2 separate regions of the Homo sapiens genome follow, and region 1 is linked to region 2. Evidence: fine-mapped expression QTL. A gene starts in region 2. The other region holds a variant in brackets. All regions are shown on one strand. Distances are between the middles of the regions.

Evidence for each region. PIP is the estimated chance that this variant, and not a neighbour inherited with it, causes the effect. A credible set is the group of variants that fine-mapping cannot tell apart.
Region 1: its variant is the best candidate, but not a certain one, in a credible set for the expression of NUFIP2 in whole blood (INTERVAL, PIP 0.60).

Annotation. Positions count from the first base shown.
Region 1 is chr17:29,314,937-29,320,315 of GRCh38, reverse strand. No RefSeq gene overlaps it. Among named protein-coding and RNA genes, the nearest start is that of NUFIP2, 23 kb to the right of the region's middle. The variant C/T (reference allele first, on the strand shown) is at 2,076.
Region 2 is chr17:29,291,567-29,296,945 of GRCh38, reverse strand. It overlaps NUFIP2 (nuclear FMR1 interacting protein 2), which reads left to right and starts at 2,798. Exons shown (of 4, transcript NM_020772.3): 1 at 2,798-3,163. The coding sequence starts at 2,887. RefSeq lists enhancers at 2,430-2,629, 2,940-3,039, 2,733-3,493 and silencers at 3,200-3,319, 3,950-4,129.

The DNA of each region.
Region 1 (5,379 bases), 23 kb before region 2:
TCCAAGCTTTTTTTCTATCTTAATGGCCTTTGTATTGGCTCACTGCAACCTCCGCCTCCCAGGTTCAACCAATTCTCTGCCTCAGCCTCCCGAGTAGCTGGGATTGCAGGCGCCCACCACCACACCCGGCCAATTTTTGCATTTTTAGTAGAGACAGGGTTTCATCATCTTGGCCAGGCTGGTCTTGAACTCCTGACCTCGTGATCCACCTGCCTCGGCATCCCAAAGTGCTGGGATTACAGGCATGAGCCACCGTGCCTGGCCCCTCCCCTAACTCTTATCTTTTGGGTCCTGGTTGAGATGTCAGAGAGACTGTTTAGGTATCCCTCTCCTGCCCTACCTCCCTCATTCTCTTTCACAGTATTTTATACTTTCCTCCAGAGTACTCATCACAATTTGCAATTATATGTCTATTTGTGTATGTATTTGTCTTCTCTAACAGGCTCTTAGCCCTATGTAGGCAGGGATACCATCTGTTTTTGTTGTTGTCTTTTTGTTTTGTTTTTTGTTTTGTTTTGTTTGTTTGTTTTGAGACAGGGTCTTTCTCGCTTACCCAGGCTGGAATGCAGTGGCGCGATCTCAGCTCACTGCAACTTCCACACCCACACCCCATGGGCTCCAGCAATCCTCCCACCTCACCTTAGCCTCCTGAGTATCTGGGACCACAGCTGTGTACCACCACACCACCACACCTGGCTATCTTTTTGTTATTGTTTTTGTTTTTGTTTTAGATGGAATCTCTGTCACCCAGGCTGGAGTGCAGTGGCACGATCCTAGCTCACTGCAGCCTCCACCTCTCAAGGTCAAGTGATTCTCCTGCTTCAGCTTCCTGAGTAGGTGGGATTACAGGTGCCCACCACCATGCCCAGCTAATTTTTTGTATCTTTAGTAGAGGTGGGATTTCAACATGTTGGCCAGGCTGATCTAGAATTCATGACCTCAGGTGATCCACTGCCTCGGGCTCCCAAAGTGCTGGGATTACAGGTGTGAGACACTGCACCCAGCCTATTTTTTTTTTTTTGTATTTTTAGTAGGATCTCACCATGTTGCCCAGGCTGGTCTCAAACTGCTGGGCTCAAGTGATCCACCCGCCTCAGCCTCCCAAAGTACTGGGATTACAGGCGTGAGCCACTGCACCCAGCCCCCCATCTGTTTTGTTCTTCATGTTAACGCAATGCCTAACACAGTGCTGCATGCTGCATGTATAGCAGGCTCTTAAATACATATTAATTGAGAGAATAAATGAATAAATGAATGAAATGTTGTTTATTACATGCTACTCTGGTAAAGGATAGCTTGGGGTAGAAATAAATGTTACTAACAATATTTAAATGATTGATGTTGGGTTTAAGCATCCTCTACCGTCACCCCATCTCTACCCTCACCATCAAGTAGCATTTGTCTACCACATCTAATCTCCTAGTGCCAAGCCCTAATCTCTGTATATTTGGAGACTAGTTTTTGGAACAGATACATGTACCAAGACTGATTCAGTTTACAGGATTTTAGGCTTAGAGGTTCTTACTGAAATAAAGTTTGATTTCACATTATTCTGGATTAACTCCAGGCATTCACCATTCAATGTGAATAATTCAATGTTATTCTGGAGTAACTCCAAGGCATTCACCATGCAAAGGAAAAGACATTTGTTTTGTTTTGCTAAAACTGAACTTAAACTATATGAAAGACACAGCTGCATTTATAGATAATTTTGTGCATTTTAGGTATCCAAGAGTGGGCATTGTTTTTGGGTGGACATAATATTTCTTTTCTTTTTTCTTTCTTTCTTTCTTTTTTTTTTTTTTTGAGACAAAGTGTTACTCTGTTGCCCAAGCTGGAGTGCAGTGGCACCATCTCAGCTCACTGCAACTTCCAAATCCCGGATTCAAGCAATTCTCCTGCCTCAGCCTCCCAAGTAGCTGGGACTACAGGCATGTGCCACCATGCCCGGCTAATTTTTGTATTTTTAGTAGAGACAGGGATTCACTATGTTGGCCAGGCTGGTCTCGAACTCCTGACCTCGTGATCTGCCCTCCTTGGGCTCCCAAAGTGCTGGGATTATAGGCATGAGCCAC[C/T]GCAACCGGCCTAAATAATATTTCTATTTGTACTGATATCCTACAAACTTTGTATTATATAGTTTAATAATGTATTTTTTCTAATTGTAAAAACAAGTATGTTCTTTGTAGAAATTTTAGAAGTTGCAGAAAAGCATGAAGGAGAAGCAAAAAGTAGAAAGAAACAAAAAATATCACTCAGAATCTCATCATTAGAGATAATCCTTGCTAACATTTTGGTATAGTCTCTCTCAGCCTTATTTCTTTTCTTTTCTTGCTCTCTCTTTTTTTTTTTTGTTTGAGACAGGGTCTTGCTTTGTCACCCAGGCTAGAGTGCAGTGGTGCAATCATGCCTCACTGCAGCCTCAACCTCCTAGGCACAAGCAATCTTCCCCACTCAGCCTCCTGAGTAGCTGGGAATGCAGGCACATGCCACCATGCCTGGCCAATTTTTTTTTTTTTTTTTTTTTTTTTGAGACAGAGTCTCTCTCTATCACCCAGGCTGGAGTGCAGTGGCACCATCTCAGCTCACTGCAACTTCCGTCTCCAGGGTTCAAGTGATTCTCATGCCTCAGCCACCTGAGTAGCTGGGATTCCAGGCTCATGCCACCTGCCTGGCTGATTTTTGTATTTTTAGTAGAGATGGGGTTTCACCATGTTGGCCAGCCTGGTCTCAAACTCCTGACCTCAAGTGATACACCTACCTTGGCCTCCCAAAATGCTGGAATTACAGGCATAAGCCACCGCACCCAGCTGCCTGGCTAATTGTTTACATTGTTTGTAGAGACACAGTTTCACCATGTTGCCCAGACTGGTCTCAAACTCCTGTGCTCAAGCAATTTGCCTGCATTGGCCTCTTAAAGTGCTGGGATTACAGGTGTGAGCCACCGTGCCTGGCCAGCTCAGCCTTATTTCTATGTGTATGTTTGGGTAGGTGCACACATATATTTATGATAGTTATCACCTGTAATCCCAGCACTTTGGGAGGCCAAGGCTGGCGGATTGTTTGAGGCCAGGAGTTGGAGACCAGCCTAGCCAACATGGTGAAACCCCACCTCTCCTAAAAATACAAATAATTAGCTGGGCATGGTGACACATGCCTGTAATTCCAGCTACTCAGGAGGCTGAGGCACGAGAATCTCTTGAACCAGGGAGGCAGAGGTTGCAGTGAGCCGAGATCACACCATTGCACTCCCAGCCTGGGTGACAGAGTGAAGCTCTGTCTCAAAAAAATTATCACATACATAAGGATATACTAGTTATTTACTGAATATGCCAGGAAACTTCATTTCCTTTTTAAACATATTAACTCTTGTAATCCTCTCAATAGTTATATGAGAAGATATTTTTATTCTTACTTTATAAATGAGTAAACGGAGGCTGAGAGTATCAATTTATTTGCTTAAGGTCATGTCATTAGTAAATGGTAGATCTGAGATGCAAATCTAGATCTAAAAGTCTATAATCTCAATCATTATGCTATATAGCTGTGTGTACATTTCTATGTTTTAAATCAAACTGGAATTACCATAGAAATAATTTTGTTTATTTTGAGATGGGGTCTTGCGCTGTCACCTAGGCTAGAGTGAAGTGGTGCAATCACAGGTCACTGCAGCCTCAACCTCCTAGGCTCAAGCAATCCTCCCACCTCAATCTCCCAAGTAGGCCCGGCACGGTGGCTCATGCCTGTAATCCCAGCATTTTGGGAGGCCAAGGTGGGCGGATCACCTGAGGTGGGGAGTTAGAGACCAGCCTGACAAACATGGTGAAACCCCATCTCTACTAAAAATACAAAAATTAGCTGAGTATAGTGACGGGCGCCTGTAGTCCCAGCTACTCGGGAGGCTGAGGCAGGAGAATCGCTTGAACCTGGGAGGCAGAGGTTGCAGTGAGCAGAGATCACACCATTGCACTCCATCCTGGGCGACAGAGCGAGACTCCCTCTCCAAAAAAAAAAAAAAAAAAAAAAAAGTCTCCCGAGTAGCTGGGACTACAGGCATGCACCACCATGCCTGGCTAATTTTTTGTATTTTTTTCTAGAGATGAGGTTTTACCATGTTGCCCGGGCTGGTCTGGAACTCCTGGGCTCAAGTAATCCGCTTGTCTCAGCCTCCCAAAGTGCTGAAATTACAGGTGTGAGCCACCGCACCCGGCTCTTATAGCATTTCATATGTTTTACTAACTTAATTTTCATGACTTTATGATCTATAAGATTAAGGAATATAAATGAATGAATAAGATATTGTTTATCACACATACACACACTGGTATAGCTTGGATTGAATAGATGTTCTGATGTTTGAGATTATTTTAATCATCTTAATTTTTTTTTTTTTTTGAGACAGAGTCTCGCGCTGTCGCCCAGGCTGGAGTGCAGTGGTGCGATCTCGGCTCACTGCAGCCTCCACCTCCCGGGTTCAAGCAATTCTCCTGCCTCAGCCTCCCAAGTAGCTGGGACCACTGGTGCGTGCCACCATGCCCAACTAAGTTTTTGTATTTTTGGTAGAGACAGGGTTTCACTGTGTTAGCCAGGATGGTCTCGATCTCCTGACCTCGTGATTCACCCGCCTGGGCCTCGTGAGCCACAGCACCCGGCCTTTTGTCTATTTCTATATGAACTGTTTTCTTTGCTTTTAAAATGCTGTCTACTGCTTCGAAAGATGATCATCTGGGTTTTATTCTAAAAGTGCCTACCTTTAAATTTTAAAAAAACCCACCTATTTTCAATGTTAAAATGAAACAGCAGCTCTTGATTTCTCCTGTGTATGATTGGGGTATTTAGCATACTTTTATTTTCCCTCATTCTTTACCTCCCACTCCCAACCCTCCCAGCTCAGTTTTATTAATATTGTTTGTCCTTTTAAACCTTTATTATTCTTCTTGGAAAAAGACATTTCTTTTTTTACATTACAATTTTTTCTTACAAAAGTTATTTTGGACATTTAAGTAAAGTTCTATTATGTATAAGTCCTTTTATAGTTCTTTTTTGTTTCTGTTTTTTGTTTTGTTTTGTCTTGAGACGGAGTCTCGCTTTGTCGCCCAGGCTGGAGTGCAGTGGCATGATCTCGGCTCACTGCAAGCTCCGCCTCCTGGGTCCACACCATTCTCCTGCCTCAGCCTCCCGAGTAGCTGGGACTACAGGTGCCTGCCACCACGCCTGGCTACTTTTTTGTATTTTTAGTAAAGACGGGGTTTCACCGTGTTAGCCAGGATGGTCTCGATATCCTGACCTCGTGATCCACCCGCCTCGGCCTCCCAAAGTGCTGGGATTACAGGTGTGAGCCACCACGCCCAGCCTCTTTTATAGTTCTTTTTTATTCTTAAG
Region 2 (5,379 bases):
TCATAGTAACTAGAGCATCTGAGAATAAGATTTAGTTTATTAAACTCAGTCAGTACAACTGTAAGTGAAAAGCTAAAGGTAGGCAAAAGTGTGATAAATCAGAAATACAGAATGAGTGCTTTTGGTTTGCCTGCAGGTATAATGTAGAAAACCTAGACAGGGAAGTTGGAACTCAGAAATTCAAGCCTTCCAACTGAATGTCTAAGTCAACAAAAAATACCAACATAATCTTAAATTGTATATATACTTTTCTTTCTTTCTTCTTCTTTTTTTTTTTTTGAGACAGGATCTCGCTCTGTTGCCCAGACTGGAGTACAGTGGCACAATCACAGCTCACTGCAGCCTCCACCTGGAGGGCTCAAGTCATCCTCCCATCTCAGCCTCCCAACTACAGGCACACACCACCATGCCAGGCTAATTTTTAAAAATTTTTGTAGAGAGAGAGTCTCTGTATGTTGCCCAGGCTGGTCTCGAACTGCTGGGTCAACTGATCTGCCATGGTCTCCCAAAGCGTTGGGATTACAGGTGTGAGCCACCACACCTGACCTGTTTTTTCTTTAATAATTGGGAACGTGGCAGAATATTATTCAGTGGTAAAGACTTATTGTGATATGATATTATTATTAGGGTTTTCATTCTCAAAATTGGGTAAATGTACCCCCAAAGAGGTTTTTCTTTAAAATTTAGCAAAGCTGGCTGGGCCTGGTGGCTCATGAATCCCAGCACTTTGGAAGGCTGAGGTGGGCAGATCACCTGAGATCAGGAGTTCGAGACCAGCCTGGCCAACATGGAGAAACCCCATCTCTATTAAAAATACAAAATTAGCCTGGCACAGTGGCGCATGCCTGTAATCCCAGCTACTCAGGAGGCTGAGGCAGGAGAATTGCTTGAACCCAGGAGGCAGAGGTTGCGGTGGGCTGAGATCATGCCATTGCACTCCAGCCTGGGCAACAAGGACAAAACTCCATCTCAAAATAAAATAAAATAAAATTTAACAAGGCAACACAAATCCTTACTGTATAGAACATGCCAAAATTTGGTCATGGTTTTCAGGATTCAATGACATTTGTTATTGGAAACCAGCTTTTACGTTTTAAATAAGCTTTTGCATTGACATTCATTAATTTCATAGCATAAACTTTTTGCTTTCAAGCTTCTTGTTCCTTTAATGTTGTCCTGTTGTAGGAATTCAAGCCACATTTTAAAAATTCAAAAACGTAACATACATTGAGGAAACAGTCCATATGTCCGTTGCTGAGTGAATGAACAAAATGTGGTATATACATATAATGGAATATTAGTCAGCCTTAAAAAAGAGGGAAATTCTGATGTATGCTACTCTGAAGACATTATGCAAAAAAGCTAGTCACAAAAAGACAAATACAGTACAATCCCACTTATATGAGGTACCTAGAATAGTCAAGTTCGTAGAGACAGAAAACAGAACAGTGGTTATCAAGGGATGGAAGGAGGAGGGAAAGGACATTTATTTTTATTGGGTATGAAGTTTCAGTTTGGAATGATGAAAAAGTTCTGGAGATAGATGATGGTCATGGTTCTACAACAATACGAATGTACCTAATGCACCTGAACCATACACTTAATATTAAGATGGTAAATTTTATATTATGAATATTTTACAATTAAAAAAATCCCCCAATCTATAACATACATTGGGAAAAGTGCATTTTATCTGTATATTCAGTTTAACAAATAATTACTAAGCAAATATATGTAATCACCACCTAGCCCCCAAAATGAAATATTATCAGAGTAACCTGTGTCCCTCCCCATCACAACCCTCTTCCTTCCTGAGTAACCACTATCATGGCTCTAACATTTGCTTTTGAAAATCATATACTGTGATGTGGTAATGCAGGATAAGTTAAATCTACACTACAAAACGCTACAGAATATTTCTTTTAATTTCAATTTTTCCATAAGTGCCAAAAAAAAAAAAAACAAACCCACTTAATAACTTTTAAGTGCTCTTTCTCCCCTTCCTTTGCTCTTGAAACTTCTCATTCTAAAACCTATTTTGGTTCCACAGTTGACCTCACCTGCAGAGTTTAATTAAAAAAAAAAAAACCTTCAGTGTAAATTTTCATTCCTCCTGCTCTCCCTTGCCTCCAACTACAAAGAAACAATGATTTAAACCCTTTGTGCCCTTTTAGAAAATTACACAGATACCCCATTGTGGAACCCTATAATCCCTTCGTGGAAAGGAAGAGATTAGCATATGAATACAAAGCAAAATGAATCCAGAATACAAAATGATCTACTGGATTGTGAAGCTCTTGTATGCTTAAAAATGTATTTATTTCCTCTTTTTGTATTGCCCCTTTAGTGGTCTCGGGGTTAAGGGAATTGAGCTTCCCTTTCTGGTTACCCGGAAAAGGATTAAAAACAAAACAAAACAAAAAACAAAAAAACACCAGATTCTAAGAGGTGCAAAGCCAGCAGATGGCTCACAGCACCAGTGGAATCGCCAGTGGAATCTGCTACCCTCGACACGAGCCTGCTTGCCGGCGAGGAGTGTAGAAAGTGCTGTTCACAGACTGCGTGGTGAAGGAGAGAAAGCGACAGAAGAGAGAGCCATAGTGCTGACGTTGAAGGCCCGGCCCTGTGAGGTTGCACAGGGTAAGTGGCGTTGGCCAGGCGGCAGCGGCGAAGGGGAAGGAAAGAGGATTTGAGCTGGGGGCGGGGCTTGCGGCACAGCGTGGCTCCTGATTGTTGGAGTGCGGCTGCCAATCTCGCAGAATCGCTCGGTTAACCAGTGCGCTGGCGAGACGCGCTCAGATATACTGAGTGAGCCCTGAGAAGCAGTCTCAGATCCTGACGGTGCAGCAGCCCGCAGCCTCAGCCAGGGAGTCCCAGCCGCTTTCAATGGAGGAGAAGCCCGGCCAGCCACAGCCTCAGCACCATCACAGCCACCACCATCCGCACCATCACCCTCAGCAGCAGCAGCAGCAGCCGCACCACCACCACCATTATTATTTCTACAACCACAGCCACAACCACCACCACCACCATCATCACCAGCAGCCTCACCAATACCTGCAGCATGGAGCCGAGGGCAGCCCCAAGGCCCAGCCAAAGCCGCTGAAACATGAGCAGAAACACACCCTCCAGCAGCACCAGGAAACGCCGAAGAAGAAAACAGGTCTGGGAGGGAGGACGGGTGGGGGAAGGGGGTTGGGGGTGGAGGACAGGAGAGATGGGGGTGGGGCTGGATCCGAAAAGCGCGGACGGGGTCGGGGTGTGTGTGTGTGTGTCCCCTCCGGCTCTGGGGATGCCCCTTTCATTCTAGAGCTCGGGCTGAGCAATGGGGTTTGCAGCGCCCTCTCCTTCCCTCCAGCATGGGAGAGGCCCAGCCAGGCCAGCGTGACCTTCCTGGCCCCGGCCCCGGCTGAAGGGAGACCTGCTGGGTCGGCCTTGCAAGTCCAACCTCATTATTCTTTTCCCATTCACCTCCCTGCGTCCCTGGAGTTACCTCAATTTGGGGGCCCTGAGATGGGGTAAACCTACCCCCCCAAAAAATCCCTCGAGGTGTAACTCAGGAAGGCCTAGCGAATCCCGACTCGGATGGTGTCGCGAGACCCTTTTGCAGGCGGCGAGGAGTGGGTAGGTAGGGTGAGTTGAGGAAGTGCCCCTCACCCGCCACCCCAAGCCCACCTGTGGCCTTGGGGCTCCCCGTCTCGGTGGGGGGGGCTGTTGGGACCCCTCATCTCACGGGTCATTTCCACCACTAAACGCCCTTTTTGGGCGCCGGACCCCGCAGTCTTGTCCCGCGGCTCCTCCCGAGGCCGGCGCCCCGCGCCCGCTCCCCCCAGAGCCGGCGCGGCTGGAATGTTCTCTCCTCCTCGCGGGGCCGCTTCCTGTCCGCCATGTTGGAAGCCGATTCCTGTCACCGACTCCGGCCCACTGAGGAGCGGAGGGGGAAGGGTGTCGAGGGCCACACGGGGCGGCGGAGCCGGGTGACCCGGGATCACCACCGGCCGCAGCCTCGCCCCCTGCACTGCGGGGGCGCCGGCGCCCCCCGCACCGCGGCCGCCCCCCCCCCCGTCGCCGGCCGGGGTTGTGTAACCCGGTGGCGGCGCGCGGCCCCGGGCGGGTCCCTGGGGTGAGGGGCGGGGGCGGTTGGGGTGGGGGAGGGAAGCGGCCACGAGGGGAGCGGCCTGCGCAGGGCCCCGCGCGCCAGCGGCCGCGTTTCCCGCTCCCGGGTGCGGCGGGAGGCGCGGGCAGTCGGGGCGGGGAGCCGGCCTCGAAGCGGAGCTGAGAGGGAAGGAGGCCGCGGGCGGCGGCCGCGGCGCTCCTAGAGGCAGGAGGCCTGGGGGGGCGGCGGGGGGATTCATTTCGGGTAGAGGCGGTGCCTGAGGCCGGGTGGGGTACCCAGCGGGAACCCAGCTCCCCGGTCACGAGTTTCTCTGCCACAGGAACCTCGTCTCCTGCCAGGTTCGCTCACGACTCCGCCTCTGAGGCTTTCACTTGGGCCTTTTCCTTCTAGCAGCTCATTTTCTACAAAAAAAAAAAAAAAATCCAAAAACCTTGTTCCATTCCCCTCCCGACCCAGCACTTACCTTCTGAGCTTGGGTAGTGTCTTTGAGGTGAGGGATTTTAAAAAATGTTAGGATGGGGAAGAGTGCGAGCTTTTTGACCCCTCTTTCTTGTCCTTAAGGGTGAACCCAAGTGGCTCATCCATGAGGTTAGACTACTACCATCTTGCCTCGGATGAGGCTTCTCTCCGTGTTAAAAAGAAAGGTGTTTTTCGTATTTTAAAATCGATATTGATCCCCAAACTAATCTTAATAAACGAGAAATTGAGGGTAAAAGTCATGTAAGAAAGTATTTCACGAGAAGTGAGTTTAATAGTTTATAACCCACGCAGATTTTAAAAAATAAGGGCTCTTTATAAATCGAAGAGAAATGAAGCGTAAGAAAGCGTATGTTAAACCCAGCGTATCAAATTTGATAGAAGGAATTGTTGAGAGCTGGAGAAATACTAAGTGCTTTTTTATTGCAGATTGTAACTTGAAGACTGAAATTAGAATGTCAGATTTTCCATTTTGGGACTTCGTAGGGACCCGATAGTATGCAATAGAAGTGAACACATACGCACGAGTTAGGTGTTTTAATCCTAAAGATTTGGAACAGTTTAAAAACTGTTAGGGACTATATAACTAGATTTTTTAGCATTAGATCTTGTTCAAAAGATGAGAAAATACTACCATATTATGGCTGCATAAGGCAATATTACTGTTGAGATTGAAAAATTGTATCTCATCGGTCAGGTTAATATACTCTTGCCAGACTTCTCTCTACATGTGGAAGCAACCGCTGAACCATTCAAGGTGGTATTCCTCCAAATATTTCTTGTCT